Linked DNA regions of Homo sapiens: region 2 is linked to region 1. Evidence: fine-mapped expression QTL. A gene starts in region 1. The other region holds a variant in brackets. All regions are shown on one strand. Distances are between the middles of the regions. Region 1 holds the start of ZNF790 (zinc finger protein 790). Region 2 overlaps ZNF790-AS1 (ZNF790 antisense RNA 1).

Region 1 (5,385 bases):
GCAAAATAGCTCATTTTGTCTGCTTTTATCAGCCTGCCCAGCTGCTTAGGTCATAAGTCAACTATTGAAGAGACCTTGAGCTAACTAGGATTGCAGTGCATTGTGGGCCGCAACCAAATGCAGCAAGACAAGCCTAAAAAAAAAACACACACACACACCGGCTGGGCGCGGTGGCTCACGCCTGTAATCCCAGCAGTTTGGAAGGCCGAGGCGGGCGGATCACAAAGTCAAGAGATCGAGACCATCCTGGCCGACACGGTGAAACCCCATCTCTACTAAAAATAGAAAAGTTAGCTGGGCGTGGTGGCACGCACCTGTAGTCCCAGCTACTCGGGAGGCTGAGGCAGGAGAATCCACTTGAACCTGGGAGGCGGAGGTTGCAGTGAGCCGTGATTGCACCACTGCACTCCAGCCTGGTGACAGAACAAGACTCTGTCTCACAAAAATCAAAAAACAAAACACCTGAAGCCCCTACCCAACAATCAATAGGCAACATCCGGGAAGATTGTGACCCCATAGTTATCAGCCTATGAGGAACCAGGGGAGGAACCTGTGCACTAGGGGATAAATTGCTTGTTGAAACTGTTGGGTGTGCCTATCAGACACTGATCTTGCAAGACCATCATTAAAAGTCTCACTTTTGCTGTTCTCCGGGTCTCTGAGTCCATTCTTTGGGACGGGTAAGTTTGTTTCTCACACTCAAGAAATCATCTTTCACTATCCCACGCTATCTCTCCAAAACTGACTTGAATCCAACCAGAATAAATGTCAATCCAACCTTGTATTTATATTTATCTACTATAAGAAGTCCCAGAATTTCTAGTCAACTGTCTTTTCGGACATTGTATACCATCAAGTCTCATTTGTCCCCTTTTCTCATTCTTCCCAACTTTCAACACTTTTCCTGTATGCCTTCATAATGGAATTCATAATTCATTAACAACCAACTCCTCTTTTATCTTCAACCACTTCCTTGAACACGCCCTAACATTCTGAGTCTAACAGAAACTAGGCTGTATCTGGAGGACTCTGCAGCCCTCTCAACATTTCCCCAGCTACAGCCTCTTACCAGTGGGTCTGAAAATGGAACAGATGGCCGGCCTCCTTGTTGTTCACTACCTTCAGACCTTTCTTCCTCCCTCCACAAACTCTAGTTTTGAATTTCCTGCCATGAGATTGTATATAACTCACCACATCTCACTTTTGTTGACCTCTACCAAACACAGGGTATTTTCCCCCTATATCTGAAATCTTCAGCTCATGGTTTACTCTCTGCAGCGCGATTACCCTTTTCTATTTTTTTTAATTCTTGCATTTTTAACTACACCCACACAGATGAGCCTTGTTTACTTACCCTTGCCTGGACTTTTCCCCCCTCTCGTGGCTCATTTCCAACAACATGTTGATGGGTGGTTGTTCCCCAGCCGTCTTCCCCAGCCCTCTACCCCAACCTGCTGCTCCATTTCTCTGCTCTAATTTACGGAGAAACTCTTGAACTATGTTGTCTACACTGTGTCCCATTCTTCTCCCCTCCTTCTAGGTTGCCCCCACTCCAATCCAGCTACGGGCCAGCACAAAAACTGCTCCCCACACATTCACGAAGGACTATGCCTGTCACTCAACGCAAAGCTCAATTCTTTGTTTTTGGCCCCATAGCGGCTGCTATCACCACCTTTACGAACGTGGTCACGCACAACGCGACGCAGTCATAATCACGTACATACAGTCACATTTAAATAGTCCATTAGGGTCACACACAGCGCCTGTCAACGTCGTGTGCGCGTGCGCGCACACACACACACACACACACATACACACACACACACACAAGCTCCCGTCGCGGCCCCAGCTCCTGCATCAATTTCACTCTCGCATCCACTGCTCCCATCGCGATCGCTCGCCCCCACGCTCCCTCGCCGGCAAAGCCACCAACTCCAAAGACATTAGCACCTCACTCCCCTCAGCCCCGGCCTCGGGCCCTCCGGAGTCATTCGGCTTCTGTGTCTCGGAATCACTCACCCGGCCCTGCGGTCCCTTGATGGTGGAAGGTTCCGCGATCTTTCTATTAACCCTAAAGGGACAGAGGGCTGACAGGAAGTTGCCCGGGGAACGGTGCACTCTGGGAAATGTAGTCCGGAGCCTGGGCCGTCTTTAACTGCCCCGGACACCGCGGTCACCATTAACGGACCCTGCATTTGAGCCCCATCCCCTCGCTGGGCAAAGACCATCGCCCACACACCGCTCACATCTGCTGCCGAGAGCTTCCAGAATTCCAGGCCGCGTTTAGGAAGCTTCAGCGGAGGCATGCAGGCTGCCCTACCTCTGCAAAAGGCTCCCAGCCCTGGGAACAGGACAGTAAGCCCAGGCCATCTTAGGCTGGAAGTAACCTTGGTCCCGACGGCCCTGGGAAATGTAGTCCAGAGCCTGGAACACTGCAGAAATGCCCCGGGGGGATGGTGCGATGGTTTTCAGTAGGAGCTCGCTGCGTGGGCCTCTGACCTATGTGGCATGGCGGGAAAGTCCTACAAGACTGTGCCAAGCGAGTGGCGAGTCTGTCCCGTCTCTGCCCGAGCCTCGGCCCGGCTGGGTGGACACCTCTTGTCCCACAAGTACCAGCCTGGGATAGAACGAAGGGGAAACGATCCATGGGACACAGCTACATGCCCAGCCCTATAGGGGTACCCTGTCTGGGAATCCATGAGAACTCTTCCTAATACCTTATTCCCATCCTCCAATCGCCCTTAAAGTGTTTGGTTTCAATTAATGTTTATAGTAACATTAGTACTGTTTTGTAAATTCCATTCATGCCATTCTTTTTGCTGAAGTACACACTTGCCAGTTTTCATTTGCTTCTCTTTTAGATGTACATCATTTCAATCTACATCTAAACTTTCTGACAGAGGAGTAATTTTTTTCAGTACTTTCAAACTTATCAGGTAACTAAAATAGTTGTTTCTTTTTTTATTGTGAAACAGAAAATACTTGAAGTGCATAAAATGTGTAAGTTCAGTATAACTCCACACAAGTGTTGGTATCTCAAGAACAAATGCCCATTCTATGTGATCATTTCTCTTTTTGTTTGTTTGTTTGTTGTTTTTTTTGAGACAGGGTCTGGCTTTGTCACCCAGGCTGGAGTACAGTGGCACGATCTAGGCTCTCTGCAACCTCTGCCTCCCTGGCTCAAGTGATCCTCCCACCTCAGCCTCCAGAATAGCTGGGACTACAGGTGTGTGCCATCACACTCAGCTAATTTTTATAGAGACAGGGTCTCGCCATGTTGGCCAGGCTGGTCTCGAACTCCTGGGCTCAAGTGATCCTCCCAAGTAGGCCTCACAAAGTACTGGCATTACAGGCATGAGTCACTGCACATAACCTGTGTGATCATTTCTGATACCCAGCTCCAGCTCCAGCTGATCTTTAGGGTATTAATAATATCTTGGCTCTTTAATAGTTTTAATCTCTCAGCTGGACGCGGTGGCTCACGCCTGTAATCCCAGCACTTTGGGAGGCTGAGGAGGGTGGATCACCTGAGGTCAGGAGTTCGAGACCAGCTTGGCTAACATGGTAAAACCCTGTCTCTACTAATAATACAAAAATTAGCTAGGTGTGGTGGTGCATGCCTGTAATCCCAGCTACTCTGGAGGCTGAGGCAGGAGAATCGCTTGAACCCAGGAGGCAGAGGTTGCAGTGAACCAAGATCACACCACTGCACTCCAGTCTGGGCGACAAGAGCGAAACTCCATCTCAAAAAAAGAAAAAAAAGTTTTAATCTTGCTGTGAAATGTATATAAATGCAATCAAATTGTACAAATTTTCTGTCTTGATTAGTTGTTAAACTCCTAACTGGATTAACCGAAAACCCCATAGTAAAGGCCTTACAGAAGGAAAGGTATGCCCATCCAGCCATCAACATCATTTTCCTGGTACTACTGGCAGGGGACCCCAAGACCAACCACTACACGCCCAAGCTCTGATGATTCACTGGGAGGCTCACAGTGAAGTGATACAAAAGAAAATCAGTAAAGAAAAAAGCGCATGGGGCAAAGTCCAGGGGAAACCAGGTGCACACTGCGAAGGGTTCTTTCCCAGTAAATTTATATGGGATTTATTTGTTCCCCAGCAGTGAGTTGTGACAATACATGTGAGATGTTACCAATCAGGGCAGTTTATTATAGATTCAGTGCCCTATGTTTTTATTGGGGGCTGGTCACATAGGCAGTCTGTGCCTAACACATACCAGAATTTCAAATTCCCAGAAGGAAAGCGGGTGTTTAACATAAACCATACTGTTTGTACAAAAAGTTTAGGCATAGTAAGCCACTTATTAGGAAGGTGGGAACCAATCTGAAATTCAAGTTCTAGATGCAAGCCAAAGACTAACCTCGCATATCAGGCCTTTCTAAGGATAAGTAGTCTCAGACCTGCTATGTTAACTAATTTCTGCTCACTACTGTCCTAAAGATGTATGGTTTTCAGCAACATCAAATTACAAGACACATGAAAAGGCAAGAAAAATCATGACACTCAAGACATAAAAGCAAAAAGCAACAACAAACAAATAGAGGTAGACTCAGGTAGGATCTCCCCAGGAGCTTGAGGCTGCAGTGAACTGTGATTGCACCACTGCACTCTAGCCTGGGCAACAAAGCAAGACCCTACCTCAAAAATTAAAAGAAAAGAAAAAGATATGATGTAGATGTTGGAACTATCTAAAAAGGAATTTAAAATATTATTAATATTTTCAAAGCTTTACCATAATGTTTTTCAACCAGAGGTGATTTTGTTCTCCAGGAGATATACAGCACAGTATGAAGTTCTTGGTAGTCACAACTGGAGAGGTACAATTTGCATTTAGAGGACAGAGGTCAGGGAAGCTGCTAAATACACTACAAGCACAGGATAGCTTGCCACAACAAAGAATTATCCAGTCCCAAATAATGGTCCAAGGTTGAGATGCCCTAAGTAATCAAGACAGTGTGTTTTTGGTGAAGGACAGAAAGATAGATTAATGGAAGGAACAGGCTGGGCACGGTGGGTCATGCCTGTAATCCCAGCACTGTGGGAGGCCAAGGCAGGTGGATCGCATGAGGTCAGGAGTTTGAGACCAGCCTGGCCAATGTGGTGAAACCCCATCTCTACTAAAAATACAAAAATTAGCTGGGTATGGTGGCTCGTGCCTGTAATCCCAGCTACTCAGGAGGCTGAGACATGAGAACCTCTTCAACCTGGGGAATGGAGGTTGCAGTGAGCTGAGATGACACCACTGCACTCCAGCCTGGGCAACAGAGCAAGACTCCATCTCAAAAAATATATATATATATTTTTAGGCCAAGGCAGGCGGATCACCTAAGATCAGGAGTTCAAGACCAGCCTGTCCAACATGGC
Region 2 (5,385 bases), 34 kb before region 1:
ATTAAAGTACTGTTAGTGAGAAATTAAAATTCCCTCAGGAGGATTAAACTGCCATTTCAGTTACCTGAATTCCAAATGTTTTGGTTGTTAGAATTTTCTTTAATGTTCATGAGGAAGTGTTTTATATTTTCTATCAAGATTAATTCTCTTTTTTTTTTTTTTTAGACGGAGCCTTGCTCTGTTGCCCAGGCTGGTGTGTAGTGATCTCAGCTCACTGCAAGCTCCACCTTCCGGGTTCACACCATTCTCCCACCTCAACCCCCGGAGTAGCTGGAACTACAGCCTCCTGCCACCACGCCTGGCTAATTTTTTTTTTGTATTTTTAGTAGAGACGGGGTTTCACCATGTTAGCTAGGATGGTCTCGATCTGCTGACCTCGTGATCCACCCGCCTCGGCCTCTCAAAGTGCTGGGATTAAAGGCGTAAGCCACTGCGCCTGGCTGTTTTTTCATTTCTATTATGATTTGTCCTGTGGAATGTCAGTGACTTAGCGGTATTTTTATCACACGTTTATAAAGCTGAATAGTTTTGTATGTCAGCTCAGCACCCTTAGTGTCAGCCATGCTAGTCTCCTGCTGTGCATAGATCGAGGCCTGTCCATACCCGAATCTCCTGGGTTCCCACTGTCAGCACCTGAAGGTACCCACCAGATGTGTCTGTCACTTCCCTACATCCACCTCTATTGTGGTTCTCATGTTTCTGCCTCCCTAGAGACCATTTCTCTGTAGAGCAGCGCTTTCGAATAGAAATACAATGCCAGACACATAAGTTGTTTTAGATTTTCTAGTAGTCACTTTAGAAAAGTTAAAAAGAAACAGGTGAAATTAATGTTTTATTTCACCTAAAATGTTAGCATTATCCAAAATATCACTTCAACATCTTATCAAAATAAAATTATTAATGAGATTGGTTACCGTTCCGATAAATAGGTGAACTGAGAGCATACACAGTAGTATTCTGTTCTAATTTCTGCTTCACTGTGAGTGTCTTGACATAGTCTTAAAAGAGTATTGCTGTGAAATATTATACATGTAACTCATAACCTCTACAATTCTGCAGTTGTAATTGGTTGTCTTACCTAATAATCAGTTGCTTTGCTTCATAATATTTAAATTGGCATCTCTATTTTCCAAAAGGCATAAATACTAGTATAGTTTTTTAGTTAAGCCAGGAGAAAGTTCACTTTATTTACATAACTTATACGTAAAAATTTAATAAATCTCCCTGCTTCTTTTCTTTTGCATCATAACAACCACTGAAAATAATATTTCTATGGCAGTTGGGGGTAAATGGACAATAGCTTTTGTGACCAGAGGTGAATGGCCCAGGGTCTCCAGCACTCCAGGTCCCACTGAGCCTGCCCCACAGCTGAGGGCATCGGTATTTCCACACACCTATAATGTACAGTGCCCCAGAACAGAGATCGGATGCTCTGCTTTATTCAGATGGGGTGTTGAGAGTATTGTCATTGTAATTGAATTAGTAAGTAAGTATTTATACACTGTTAAAATCTGGTTGGATTTGTGTCCCTTCACAAAACAAATTGCTTAAATGAAACCACAGAGTTAACATAATTGACTACATCTGCTTCTATGAGCTGCTGTTCTAACATTTAACTAGAATCTAATTTGAAATTAGTCAATAAAAAGTTTATTCAACTGAATTATATTTAGACTTTTTGTTGTTGTTGTTGTTTTGAGATGGAGTTTTGCTCTTGTAGCCCAGGCTGGAGTGCAATGGCGCGATCTTGGCTCACTGCAACCTCCTTCTCCCGGGTTCAGGCGATTCTCCTGCCTCAACCTCCCGAGTAGGTGGGATTACTGGTGCCTGCCACCACGCCCAGCGTGAAGCACTGCACCCGGCCTTCATAGATTATTTTACTTTATTTTAGTTACTTATTTTTATGACTTTATTGTTATAAAAATGCTTGTTTTTAAAAAAAATCAACCAGTATAACAAAGAACAAAGAAGATAATCAACAAGCATTCCCACCTCCATGATTTAGAAATAACTGTCATCAATACAGGAAAATACCATGCCATTCTTTCTCCTCTAGGCACATGGACAGACAGATAGAAGGATGGGAAAATAGATAGATGGTCCAGGCACAATGGCTCACGCCTGTAATCTCAGCACTTTGGGAGGCCAAGGCGTGTGGATTACCTGAGGTCAGGAGTTTGAGACCAGCCTAGCCAACATGGTGAAACCCCATCTCTACTTATAATACCCAAAAAAAAAAAAAAAAAATTGGCCAGGAATGGTGGTGGGCTCCTGTAATCCCAGCTACTCAGGAGGCTGAGGCAGGAGAATCACTTGAACCCAGGAGGTGGAGGTTGCAGTGAGCCGAGATTATGCCATTGCACTCCATCCTGGACAACAGAGTGAGACTCCTTCTCAAAAAAAAAAAAAAAAAAAAAAAGAACAGTTGATGAAGGATGGATAGACTAAAACAATGCTGCATTAATGAGGCTACGATAGTGCGTATTTGTATAAAAAGCATTAATTTGCATTTGTTGGCATTTTGAAGCTCTGTTGTTGGATGCATACACATTTAGTATCTATATGTCGTTATGATTTGTAAATCATGTAATGCGTCTCTTTACATAATGATTTTTAAATTATTTTGTAATGTTTCT[C/T]ATTACGTTATGTAATGCCCTTATTAACTTTCCTTGGAAATCTTTTTTACCCGTTATCCATACAACCACTCTTGCTTTCTTAATACTGATGTTAGCATGATATACCTTTTTTCTTTTGTTCGTTTTTTATTTTAACTGTCAACTTACCTATGCTGTGTTTGAAGTGAGGTTCTTGTACGTGGCATGTAGTTGGGTTATGTTTTATTTTATTTAAACTGCCATCTCTGTCCTTTACATCAAAGGTAAATTGATGTTCTTAGACCACGTACCTTTAAAGTAATTCTTGATGTGTTAAAGCTTAATTCTGCCATTTTATTATTTGTTTTCTGTTTGTTTCCTGTTTCCCTGTTCTAGTCTTCCACTGGATACTTGATCACTTTTAAAATTCCATCTTGTTTAATTTATACTGTATTTGAGTATATCACTTACATAGTTCTTTTGGTGGTTGCTCTAGGTATTACAGTATATATCTATAACTTAGCCTATTGCTATCCACATTTAAGTACTTGCAGTGGAGCATTGAAAACTTACTTTCATTTAGGTCTTTACCCTCTCTACCTTTTAGATATAATTGTTTCCAATGTTTCCTTTTTCATATTGAGCATTCCAACATATGCTTTTATAATTTTTGCTTGAGTCATCAAATATGATTTCAGAAATTCATAAGAAGGAGATTCTTACGGCTTTGTGGCCCTAGATATACTGCCTGTAGTATACTGACCAGTGGCTCCAGACCTCTTTTCTTTGGTGGGAGAGGGTCTGGCACTTGGGTGGGCCTTGCCAAAATTTTCTTTCTCTGTTGTTGACCATCATCTCCCTCTGAAGTTTACTGCCTGACCTGTTTCTGTGTTTGGTTACTCCAGGTGAACTTGTGCTATTTCTGTTGTCTTTAGGTTGAGAGTGGTAGAACTTTTTTTTAACTTCATTCTATCATCTTTACCCCAAAGTCTTACATTTTTAATAAAATTAAAAGCCACCATTTTTGGTCCTTTGTCAGTGACAGCTATCTAAAGAAAGACATTAGCAGCTTTTTAGATATTTAAGGAAGTTTCTGTCATTCTTTGGTTGTCATATCTTTAGGAAACATTTTTTTCCCTAAATTACTCCAAATTAAATTAATCCTACAGTTGGTCTAATTTAATTTTTTTTTTTTTTTTTTTTGAGACAGGGTCTCATTCTGTAACCCAGGCTGAAGTGTAGGGGTGGAATCATAGGTTATTGCAGCCTCAAACTCCTAGGCTCAAGAGATCCTCCCACCTCAGCCTCCCAAGTAACTGGAACTGCAGGTGTGCACCGCCATGCCTAGCTAATTTAAAAATTTTTTTGCAGAGGTGGGGTTGGGTCTCACTATGTTGCCCAAGCTGGTCTCAAATACTTGAGCACGAGTGATTCTGTTACCCTGGCTTCCCAAAGTGCCGGGATTACAGGTATGAGCCACCATGCCTGGCCCAGTTACTTGCTTTTTAAATAGCTCAAAAGTTTTTCATCCTTTTAACCAAAGTTGCCAAATCTAAAGCATTATTCCTTTTGGTCATCAAGTAGAGGAATGGATGAATATATTTCAGTTTGCTTATTACTAAAATATGTTAGTAATAGCATATTTTATTCAAATCACTGCATATTAGCTCTGTCTTATTTTCCATTTTCATGACAAACACACCCAAAGCTCAGCTCACTGTATTTACTTTCTTTTCATGATACTGTTTGCTAAGTTTTTTCTGTTTGCTTCACCATATTTTGAACAATTTTCTATTAAACTAGGATATTTTAAAAGTTTGCCTTTTCAGGCCGGGTGTGGTGGCTCACGCCTGTAATCCCAGCACTTTGGGAGGCCGAGGCAGGCGGATCACGAGGTCAGGAGATCGAGACCATCCTGGCTATCGAGACCATCCTGGCTAACACGGTGAAACCTCGTCTCTACTAAAAAAAATACAAAAAATTAGCCGGGCATGGTGGCAGGTGCCTATAGTCCCAGCTACTCGGAGGCTGAGGCAGGAGAATGGCGTGAACCCTGGAGGCGGAGCTTGCGGTGAGCCGAGATGGTGCCACTGCACTCCAGCCTGGGCAACAGAGCAAGACTGTGTCTCAAGAAAAAAAAAAAATAGTTTGTGTTTTCAATTGTCTTATTTAGACAAACTCTGTAGTTTCAAAGTTATCTTTTTCTTGCCTGATGCCTTTGATGTTTGATGATGTTAATAATATACTATTTTCAAAGCCAATTTCTTATTTCTACACTGATATTGGAAAAAGAATAAAGTGATGAAGTCAACAGGTGTTATTAAAAAATGTGAATAACAGGAAAATGTTTTGTTGTTTGTTTTGTTTTGTCTTTGAAGTCTTTCACAGACTAGATTTGAAGGTTTATGAAGGATAGGGCAAAATTTTCTAAGGAAAGTTGCATCCTATGACCTCAGGCTGACTTCAAGTAAGAGTGGATTTGATAAAGGCATTGTCTTTCTTAGAGTATGTGCATCTTGGCAGAGGAGCCTGGAGAGGCAGTATAGAAGGATTGTTTTAGATGTTGGATCTCTGTAACCTGCATTTACATTTTGTTGAGCCGTTGTCATTTGGGGGAAAACACGAAAAAGAAAAGATCATTATCATGCTACTATAATGCACATCACATAGAATTGCAATGATTTGTTGGTTGTTCATTCCAGTCCAAGAACTGTGAGTTTCTCCAGCCAAAGGTCTTGTATTTATTGATCTTTCTGTCCCACAGGCCTAAAACAGCAGTTGGCCCATGGAC

The links. PIP is the estimated chance that this variant, and not a neighbour inherited with it, causes the effect.
Region 2: its variant is the best candidate, but not a certain one, in a credible set for the expression of ZNF790 in whole blood (INTERVAL, PIP 0.78).

Annotation. Positions count from the first base shown.
Region 1 is chr19:36,836,318-36,841,702 of GRCh38, forward strand. It overlaps ZNF790 (zinc finger protein 790), which reads right to left and starts at 2,070. Exons shown (of 5, transcript NM_206894.4): 1 at 2,020-2,070.
Region 2 is chr19:36,802,293-36,807,677 of GRCh38, forward strand. The region is part of intron 3 of ZNF790-AS1 (ZNF790 antisense RNA 1); the gene reads left to right. Among named protein-coding and RNA genes, the nearest start is that of ZNF790-AS1, 7.4 kb to the left of the region's middle. The variant C/T (reference allele first, on the strand shown) is at 2,637.